Linked DNA regions of Homo sapiens: region 2 is linked to region 1. A link means that fine-mapping ties the variant in region 1 to the expression of a gene that starts in the linked region. Tissue or cell type: monocytes after Pam3CSK4. Region 1 holds a variant in brackets; the other region holds the start of a gene. All regions are shown on one strand. Distances are between the middles of the regions.

Region 1 (5,326 bases):
CTTCTTAAATCTCTTCTTTCAGCAGAGTTGATATAGTTTATAGCTGGGGAGTCCATTTCTTATGTGAAAATTTTAAGATGTACGGATTTGTACCCTCATCTGAGACCCTTCATTTATATCACTTCTCTTGCTCTGAAAAAGCTTAACTTTTATTTAGGGCCATGTGAAAACAACAACACATATGTCTAGCAGCTGGGGGATGGCTAGATGACTTTTGAGCACCTTTTGCAGCCCTCTTGTCCCACAGACCTAACTGTACCTTTTCTCTGTATTTGCCCCCAAATGGTCCTTAAGATCCAAGCTGTTAGAGGGTCCAGTTTCCAAACAAGGGCACCTCCTAAGGAGGGCTCTCCCCTTTATAAGTCTCTTCTCTCCCCCTACAATCAAGTTTCAGATTTAGATTTCAAACAGCGGGGCAAAACATAGGTCAAGAGGATTTTGGTAAGAGATTCACTGTATAACCTGCTAGTATTTTTCTCTCATATTGGGGAGCTGATTTTTTTAAACCTGATCAATGTAGTACTTAAAAGTACTTAAAAAACAACCAATAATGCTTTAAAATATTTTCTTTTCTTTTCAGAATAAACTCAAAGCCGGCAATGCCCTGGCATTTTTGGGTCTTGAGAGAAAACAATTTGAATGACTGAATTTACTACAAAGGCAAACTTTCAAAAGGATATCTCATTTTTGTTTCTAAATATGTATCAACAGGTATCAACAAAATCCTATTTTGAACTATTTTACTCAGAAATGAATGTCCCAAATATCCTAAATTATTCATAATAAAAATGATTTGTAAGTGTTTTCATTCTGAAAAGCAGTACATTATTTCATGTGCAAATAAAAAATGATTTTCCCAGTGCTCTTTTAATTAATCTGGAGAAATACAAAATAAAATGTCATTAATGATTTATATGGAGAAAGATTCATCCTAGAAGACTTAGGTAGGTTGTCCATTTTGAACAAAGATATGTGAATTGGACTCAAATAACCTGTTCCATCTGCCTTTAACACCTACCATTAGCCCAGAACTGGGCTGGGAATGCTTTAGCCTCCACAAAATAAATAACATGAATATAGGATATCCATAACCTCAGGGAGCTTCCAGACCAATTAAGGAGGTAAGAGATGTTCATGGAATAATTACTAAGCTATCAACTTTGAGTGTCAAAGAAGTTTCGTTAAGCGGAATTCACTTTGGTCTAAAACTGTGGAGCAGATCTTCACAGAGGGTGGAACATGAGAGTCCAGGAGATGAATAAGGAATTTTTAGGGTTAGAGGATGGGAAACAGGAAGGCAAAACTATGGGAACACAGCTGTGGTTTCAGACTGAATGAGACATCCATTTTAAAAGTTTTTGTCTATAAATTTACTCCTACCAGAAGCTCTTTTGATTTTAAAATACCGAGCAGAATGTATGAAGCTAACTGTGGAAAGTTAATAGGGCAATACCAGGGTAGCCTTGTTTTACCCATTTCATTTATGGTCCCACTTGGGCTGCTGAAAAGGAACTTGGTCCTGGGATGGGTGATGAAATCTATGGTTCATCTGCCTCTGGCTGAATTCCAAAATCAAGCATGGATTCATTCATTATTTTCCCTTCCATTCATCTAGAAAATCAAGAGTTGAGTATTGACATGTAATTTGTGCTGACCCCTCTCCAGAATAAAGATGAGATCTAATTCTTACTTCACTATGCTCACGCCATTATTTTCACTTTATATAGTTCATTGCCCCACCTCCTTCTCACCCCACCCCCCACCATTTCTTTCTAGGATTTTACTCACCCACCATCTGCTTATTGCTCCAATCTGCCCAAAAAGGAAAACAAAGTTGAACAAAGCAACAACATGAACCATATGTTATTTTTTCCTTCCCCAATCTTTGGGGATAAAGTCCATACCTTTTCAAATATTCTATATTTGAGCACTCTGAATACAGCATTTAATGATTGTTTTATTATAAAAAGTAACCCAATCACTTTATTCAATATCATACACACACATACACATGCAGAGTGAATGGATATATTCATATTCACATGTTTTCTATGTGCCAGGACTATAGGA[A/G]TGCTCCAGGCACTGGGGGTATAGATGTAAACAAAAAAGATAAAATTCCTTTTCTGACAAAACCTACAATCTGAAGAGTGAGAAACATAAATAAGGTAAGGAAGAAGAAAAAGAGGAATAAAAGGAGGAACAGAAGGAGGAAAGAAGGAAGGAAATTTTTCTTATACTGATAAACACTATGAAGAAATTAAAACGAAAATGTGGTAGTGACTAGGAGAAAGATGGGGGGGTAAAACGTTAAATTGTAGAGTCAGAGAAGGCCTCTTTAAAGAGGACTTTCAACTGAGATTTGAATGATAGAACAGTGAAGAAAATGCAAAGGTTCTGAGGCAAGAAACCTCGTGACAAGTTTGTGAGCAAGGAAGGGAGACAGGAGAGGAAGCCAAAAAGTTGGCTAGATCAGTAGATCATGGTCAAGGGTTGAGTTTTTGTTGTTGTTGTTGTTGTTGTTGTTGTTGTTGTTTGAGGCAGAATCGTACCGTCACCAGGCTGGAATGCAGTGGCGCGATCTCGGCTCACTGCAACCTCCGACTCCCTGGTTCAAGTGATTCTCCTGCCTCAGCCTCCTGAGTAGCTAGGATTACAGGCACGTGCCACCAGGTCCAGATAATTTTTTTTTTTGAGACAGAATCTTACCCTGTCGCCAGGCTGGAATGCAGTGGCGCAATCTCGGCTCACTGCAACCTCTGACTCCCTGGTTCAAGTGATTCTTCTGCCTCAGCCTCCTGAGTAGCTAGGATTACAGGCACGCGCCACCAGGTCCAGCTAATTTTTTTTTTTAATAGAGTCGGGGTTTCACCCTGTTGGCCAGGATGGTCTCAATCTCCTGACCTCGTGATCCTCCCGCCTCAGCCTCTCAAAGTGCTGGGATTACAGGCATGAGCCACCACGCCTGCCCAAGATTTTTATCTTGTTTCATAGGAAACCACTGGAGACTTTTTAATAGGTCTGTGACATGCTCGGACTTATGTTATTCTTTTAAAACAAACAAACAAAAAATAGAAGGGTGCAGTGGCTTGCAACAGTAATCCCAACACTTTGAGAGGCTGAGGCAGGAGGATCACTTGAAGCCAGGAGACTGAGACCAGCCTGGGCAACACAGCAATCTCTACAAAAAAAAATTTTTTTTTAATTAGCTGGGTGTGGTGGCTCATTCCTATAATCTCAGCTACTCAGGAGGCTGGGATGGGAGGATGGCTTAAGCCCAGGAGTTCGAGGCTGCAGTGAGCTAGGATCATGCCACTGCACTCCAGCCTGGGTGACAGAGTGAGACCCTGTCTCAGAAAAAAGAGAGGAGAGGAGAGGAGGAAAAAAAGAAAAAAGAAACCCATATACATTAACAGCTTTGTAGAGACCTATTAAAGGGAGTCAAGAAAGGAAGTTGGAGGCTAGGCAAGAAATGATGGTGACTCAGGCATAAATACAAGAATGGGGATCATGAGATATGTTTGTAGGCAGAACCAACAGCATTTAATGATGGACTAAATGTGAGGAAGAGGGAGGAAGGGGAGGAAAGAAATCAAGGCTGACTCCTGGGCATGTGAATGTGAAGTGTGTGTACACATGTGCACACCATGCTTTTGTCAATCAGTCTCCTATATTTGGACATTTAAATAATTCCTAATGTTTTGTAATTATAAATAATACTGCAATAAAATTTGATTCATTTCCCAAATCATACATATGGATAAACTACAACTCTGATTGGATCAAAGATTTAACTCTAAAATATTAAACTATGCAGGTACTAGAAGAAAAGATGCGAGAATTCCTCTTTAATCTGGGTGTAAAGAGGGTTTTCTAACTAGGACTTTCCTGGGCACATACTCCTGGTGACATTTAAGGTTTGAGATGATTAATAGTAGTTAATGGTGTTAAATGCATCCATACTTTAAACATAGGTGCTTTGATTCCCAGGCTTTTCACTTGAACAGCTGGGTAGATTTATTACCATATACCATAATGAGGAAGACTATGGGAGAAACAGTCTTGAGAGGAAAGAGAATCAACAGTTCTGTAGTTGGACTTGTTATATTTCAGATGCCTCTTAGACATTTAAGTAGGAATGTCAAGTAAGCACTTGAGTGTTCTAGTCTGGAGAGTTCAAGAGAGAGGCTAGGGAAAAATCACCAGTGTATAAAAGGTATTTAAAGAAATGAGACTGGATGAAATCACCTGGTGAAAAAGTAGAGTAGAGACGCAAAAGACCCTAGGCCTATTTCCTGGGATTCACTAACACTTAGAAGTTAGATGAAGGCTATACAAAAATTAGCCCGGGCATGGTGGCACGTGCCTGTAATCCCAGCTAATCGGGAAGCTGAGGCAGGAGAATCACTTGAACCCGTGAGGCGGAGGTTGCAGTGAGCCGAGATCGTGCCACTGCACTCCAGCCTGGGTGACAGAGCGAGACTCTGTCTCAAAAAAAAAAAAAAAAAAGTTAGATGAAGGCACCAGCTTTGTGCACAGAAGAGTAGCCAGTGAGGTAGGAGGAAAACCAGGAAAATATACTCAGGAGTCAAGAGCAGACAATGTTTCAAGAAGTCCTAACAGCATTAGGCATACACACACACACACAAAATCAAAGCTACAATACTACGGTATTCAATAGAACCATATGCCTCAGATATAACTCAATCCCTTTATCCCAAAATTTAATTCCACTTCTTACAGTCCCAACCTGATGAATGGCATCACCCAGTCACCTAATCCTTCTCCTTCACCCGTATCAATACACCATTAAATCCAAAAGATTCAACTCATTTTATATCTTTTATTTCTTATCTGTTCTTTCCTCCATATGGCTTCCAACTAAATTCAGGTCTTCATCTCTCAGCAGGATATTGAAATAATCCCTTATTTGTACCCCTGCCCCTTGGCTTAGTCTGGTACAACCCATCTTCTACCTTGGTGCCAGATAAAAATGTCCAAAGTATGTATTTGATTATATTACTTTCTCTGTTAAAATTCCTCAGGACCTAAAGTGCTGGTTTCTAGGCTTTGGGATTTCATCGCTCAGTAACTCCCCCTTCAAAAAACCGAAAACAAAAAAAAAAATGTACTGCTATCTCTAACAGAGCACACCTCTCATTTTGAGTTGTGATTCCTATCTGCCTTCTAGACTGGACTTTCTTGAGGGATGACCTAAGTCTTCATTCACTCATGCATTCAACAAAATTTATTCAGGACTTATGATGGGCCAAGAACCATGCTAGATTCTGAGAGTATGAAAAAAGCAATCATGGTTCCTGCCCTCAGT
Region 2 (5,384 bases), 65 kb before region 1:
AATTAAAATTATTTTGATTTCATTTTTAAAGTCTCATTTTGCTCATTTTCAAACTTGGTAAACATTCTTGGAGGTTTAAATCTATTATTTATTATATCTGTGGACTCCTGCTCATAGTGACTTTTTTCCTCATGTGTGTAGAATTTTTTTATTGTGAGACAATACTTTGTTGGGGGTGCTTAATCTGTGGCAATACTGAGGAGACAGAATTGGGATGTTTTTCTTCAGGGAGGATTTACATTTCCTTTTTCTGGTCAAAAGTAGTACTAGGGTTTGGATGTAATTTCTCCCTACCAAAACATGTTAACATATAATTGCCAATGTAGCAGCATTGGGAGGTGGTGTTTTTAAGAGGTGATTAGGCTGTTAAGATGGGTTTTTCACAAGCCTGGTTTAGTTCTTGAGGTTGGATTAATTCTCATAGAAATAGATTAGTTCTTCCAAGAGTGGGTTGTTATAAAACTCATTAGCCTCCTTTGTCCTGTCCCTCTTTGCACACATCTGCATACCTTTCTGCTTTTCTACCATGTTGTACCTCAGCATGTGGCCCTCACCAGAAGCCAAACAGCTCCTGGTGCAATGTTCTTGGACTTTCCAGCCAGCAGAACTGTGAGCCAAATGAGTTTCTTTTCTTTATAAATTATCCAGACTCAGGTATTCTATTAAAGCAACACTAAATTGACTAAGACAGGGTGGGAGGAAGTAGGTGAGTGGTACTTTAACTAAAATCTTAGTGGGTGACCTTGAATAGTAATTCTCAAAGAAATTCTCAGAGAAAATTGTTATTTCTTCTCTTTTTTTCCCCTCATAGTGAAGACAGGTTTCATTACAGACTCCCTCTTTTTGGCCAATGGATTTTTTTCCTAGACTACTTTTTCCCTGAGGGTCTAGATCCTTCAAGACTTTTAGTGTAATGAGGGCATTTCAGTTTTGTACAAGCCCATATTATTATCTCCCATTCCCTTGTGGGATATTAACCCTGAAATCTCTAGGAGTCTGAAGCCACATTTTCTGGATTCTAATTCCAGTTCTCCCACACACTATTGTGTAACCATGAACAAGGTACTTCTCCGTGCTTCAGTTTCCTCTTCTATAAAATGAATATTGGTCCTAGTTCTTCCCCCACAGGAATGTTATGAGTAATAAGTGAACCGACTTTATTAAAATTCATGGACCAGTGCCTGGCCCATTGGGAGTGCTCTAAAAATGCTTGCACTTACTTACTCAGTATTAGCAAGTGCCTCCATGTTAGTTTAAGGCTTACTCATTCAGTTTTAGCTCACTGAACTTCTAAAAAAATGGATTTCAAGGATTTCCTTTATTTTCTTTCAAGCTGTCTGTTATAATTTATCCAGAATCTAGCTGAATTACAGAAGGAAGCTTTTTGACTACTCAATTTATGTGTTGTGGAGTCTGAGCTGAAGGCAGCAACCAAGGCAGGTTTAAGGGTTTGCCAGGGGACCTGGGGTCCCTTGAACATTTTAAGCTGTTCAGGAAGAGGAAAGGGTAAACACAGAACAATCAAGGGCTGTTTTGTTCCAGGCTCTCTTTAGAGGCATGACCATATAAGCCCCACTTTCTGCTATATTGGAAGCCCTCCCTGACTGCTCTGATAATGCTAAATGGAAATGGCTACTATCTTCTTTTCCCTACACTTTAGGATATGTATCATCTTTCTCTCAGTCAACCTTACATCGTCAGCATATAGCAGTTCTCCATAAATGTTTGTTAAATGCATGAATGAAGCTGGGTGCAGTGGCTCTCGCCTGTAATCCCAGCACTTTGGGAGGCAAAGGTGGGTGGATTGCTTGAGCCCAGGAATTCCATACCAGCCTGGGCAATATAGTGAGACCGCATCTCAAATTAAAAAACAAAAAAAAAAGGAAAAAAATGCATGAATGAATGAGTCCAAGACAAAGGCACTGGAGGAAAAAACATATATGAAGAGTGGACTCTTTCTGTGATTTAAAATGTGAAACCTCCCCATAACTTTTCAACACGTTAAATTTTCATGAACAAGACAACTGTTAAATATTATTTAAAGATATGGGAGTAACTAACTGAACAAAAAGCAAAATCATAAAAACTGGCTGCTTCTGAATAGTGCAAGGAAAAGTAAGAAAAGGTGAGTCAGGGATCTATCCTTTTTCTGTAAAAGCCCTCTGCATGGTTTTATTTTTAACTACAAACTATTTAATTATTAACTATGTACAACTAAGTTAAAATATTTAAAATGAAAAATCAGTCAATTTTTGACCTGCTGTAAGTCAAAGCATCCTGCTGTGCTTTTGACCTCATACAGTTGAGTACAGTTGTTTTTTTGTTTTTGTTTTTGTTTTTGTTTTTTTAAGTTTTGTGCCAAGAGTCCTGACTACCAAACTGTGTTGACCCAAAGCTTGATTAACAAATAAAGCTTGGTTAACCAAAGCTTGGTTAACAAATAAACAGAACTTTGAACTTTAATAAAGCAGTTCTAATGGACCTAGACTGGGTTGGGCAGGCCTACTGACTGCTGCCTGAAGGTTGCTGTAAAGGGACTAAGTAAATCAATTAACTCCACAGTTTTCACAAAGGTCTCTTGATATCAAAACTTCTTTCCTTGCATGCTTCTCTGATCCTGTGGAGATGAAAATTGACATCCATAGTCATATTCTACCAAAAGAATGGCCAGATCTAAAAAAGGTAATGGTAATTAATTTGCTGAATTATTTCTGAAACTTCTCCAGGGTTTCTCAATGCCTTTCTCTTCTTTGTGGAATTAGATGTCTAGTTTATCTGCTTTGGTGGGGGGCGAGGGGGTTAAATCATTTGGTAGTTCTGATTTTCTAGCTTTTAAAAATGACTTTTATATTTATTTTGAAATAACATTGGATTAAAGAAATAAGTGCTTTCTCAGAAACCCTTTTTTCCCTCAAATGAACCATTCTTTAAAATATCTGGACAATTTAAATAAGGCAGATTTACCTTTTCAAAAATCACATATTCAGCTGCTGGGAAGATACATGCCAACTACAGAATTTAAAGTTACAATTTTAAGTAGAAGACCATTAAAAATGGAATGTGATCGGTTTCAAGGACTTCTAAAATATATCTCCTTTCCAAAATGTTTAAAATAAGTTTTAGAAGCACCAAGAGATAGCTTTGTGAATTTTTTTAGTCTATTTTAGGACACTGCCTGAAACCTTTACTGTTTGATGTTCTTTATTCTATAAATCTTTGTCCTGAAGAACTAGGAAGTAGGTACATCAAAAAACCCGAGAATAAATGACATGAAGCTTTTGCACAGTGACATCTCCTAAGAGAGTATTCTTTGTGTTTCTCTAAAGATGGAAATTTCCTTTTGTCATTAAGAACTTTTGAATGAATATAAAAAGAGGAAGGTGAGGAACATGAAAGAAATGTAAAATTGGCTAGAGGTTTGTTCAGGCTTAATATCAGGTTTTACCCAATCTTCAGCATTCTGCCAGTACTTTCACACCACCGATAATGTTTCAACTTTTTTATCCCAAGTGAGGGAAAATGAATTAACCCAAACTTGAATTAAATGTGGTTCATTGTGCAAATAGATGAAACTATTTTCTTCTCATAGTTGTCTCATTGAAGAATGTTTATCTTAAGTATTTCTTTGTCCATTGGTATCTTAGGTAAGAGGGGTGGTAGAAACTGTGGATTGAAAAACAAAATCTTTGAAAGCCTATCCTATGCACAGCTAACGATAAAAGATAAACCTCTCAACCTGCTCTTCCTAAAAGGACTCTACATGTTTACACAGGAACATGCTGTTCTGAGTGCTGTTGTCCTCATCATAGTTTACTGAAGTGTAAACCACTTCACAATGTTAATGATTTCATGAAGGGAATGCACCAGTTACTTTGTGGGAGTGCATCTGCCTTGTTTAGAAGCTGCATGCAGTTTCTTACATCTTATGGCGCCCACCACTTTCTACCCCTCATTTATGAGTATTTGCCTGATGAATGATGCAATGAACACATTGACTAACTTGTGATACAGGTAATGGAAGCAATAGATTATACTCCCTAATCTGAGAGTTTTAGAAAAATCCAAATTTTAGTATTTGGTATTTTAAAATAGCCATAAACTATACCTAGCAAAAAAAAAAAAAAAAAAAAAAAAAACCACTAATTCCTCTGTTACAGCTTTTTTCTCTATTTGAGTATGAAAGAATATCCACATGAAATGCTTTGGAAACCACCACGGTGGTCTCTAGAGGACAACGCCCCCCTGTACTATCCCACTGAGAAAGCTAGCTAGCATGATCGACCCTCCAAGCAGGGCTCCAAGCTCCAGGGCATACACCTCCTTGTGCAGACAGGATTTTGAGGCTTAGAGAGAGCTACAGTCTGAATGTGTATGTCCCCCCCAAAATTCAGGTGAAACCCTCATCCACAAGGCAATGGTATTAGGAGATGCAGCCTTCTGGAGGTGATTAGGTAATGAGAGCAGAGCCCTCATGTATGAGATTAGTGCCCTTATAAAGTAAGCCCAAGGAAGCTTGTTCGCCCCTTCTGCCACGTGAGGGCACAGCAAGAAGGCACCATCTTAGAACCAGGAAGCGGGTTCTCACCAGATCTTGGACTTCCCAGCTTCCAAACTCCCTCTCCTTTCTATCACCAGCTATTGCTTTAAAGAGGGAGAGGAATTTTGTCCCAATAAACCAGGTTTCTTCTTCTTTTTTTATTTTTATGTATTTATTTTTATTTCCATAGGCTATTGGGGAACAGGTGGTGTTTGGTTACATGAGTAAGTTCTTTAGTGGTGATTTGTGAGATTTTGGTGCACCCATCACCCAAGCAGTATACACTGCACCCAATTTTAGTCTTTTATCCCTCATCTGCTTCCCACCCTTTCCCCGAGTCCCCAAAGTCCATCGTGTCATTCTTATGCCTTTGCATCCTCATAACTTAGCTACCACTTATGAGTGAGAACATATGATGTTTGGTTTTTCATTCCAAACCAGGTTTCTTCTTATGTAGTAGTCTCATATGCTGCAAGCAGACAGCTGATACACTTCATCATCACCATCTACATCATTTCCATCATTATAGTCATAACACTTCGTACTTCCAGGGAGAGACAGAGGGAGAAATAATTTACATAAACCTTGTGAAATATGCAGATAAGATTTATATTATTCACTTGACAGATGAGATGCTTGAGACTCAGAAATGAACCTAGAATCCCAGAGCTATGAGAGGCCACCGTGGTCCCTCAAGAGCCTCCCCACCACCACACCCATCTTGAGAAAACTGGCCCAAGAGAGTACTGCTGCTGGAATAACCTTGACCTTCTTGCACAATGAAGAGACAGAAAAGCAGAATCAACACGCCTGAAGTGATGTTTAATTAATGATGATAATGGACGGG

Alleles and levels. Alleles are on the strand shown, and positions count from the first base shown. SD is a standard deviation of normalised expression in the study named.
With allele G in place of A in region 1, the expression in monocytes after Pam3CSK4 of the gene that starts at base 2,559 in region 2 is lower (moderate effect, 0.72 SD a copy in Quach 2016).

The links. PIP is the estimated chance that this variant, and not a neighbour inherited with it, causes the effect.
Region 2: ACMSD starts here. The variant in region 1 is fine-mapped to the expression of ACMSD in monocytes after Pam3CSK4 (Quach 2016, PIP 0.95).

The regions. Positions count from the first base shown.
Region 1 is chr2:134,901,218-134,906,543 of GRCh38, forward strand. It overlaps ACMSD (aminocarboxymuconate semialdehyde decarboxylase), which reads left to right. Exons shown (of 10, transcript NM_138326.3): 10 at 581-817. The coding sequence ends at 643. All of the region lies in intron 1 of CCNT2-AS1 (CCNT2 antisense RNA 1), which reads right to left. Among named protein-coding and RNA genes, the nearest start is that of CCNT2-AS1, 15 kb to the right of the region's middle. The variant A/G (reference allele first, on the strand shown) is at 2,071.
Region 2 is chr2:134,836,058-134,841,441 of GRCh38, forward strand. It overlaps ACMSD (aminocarboxymuconate semialdehyde decarboxylase), which reads left to right and starts at 2,559. Exons shown (of 10, transcript NM_138326.3): 1 at 2,559-2,682. The coding sequence starts at 2,626.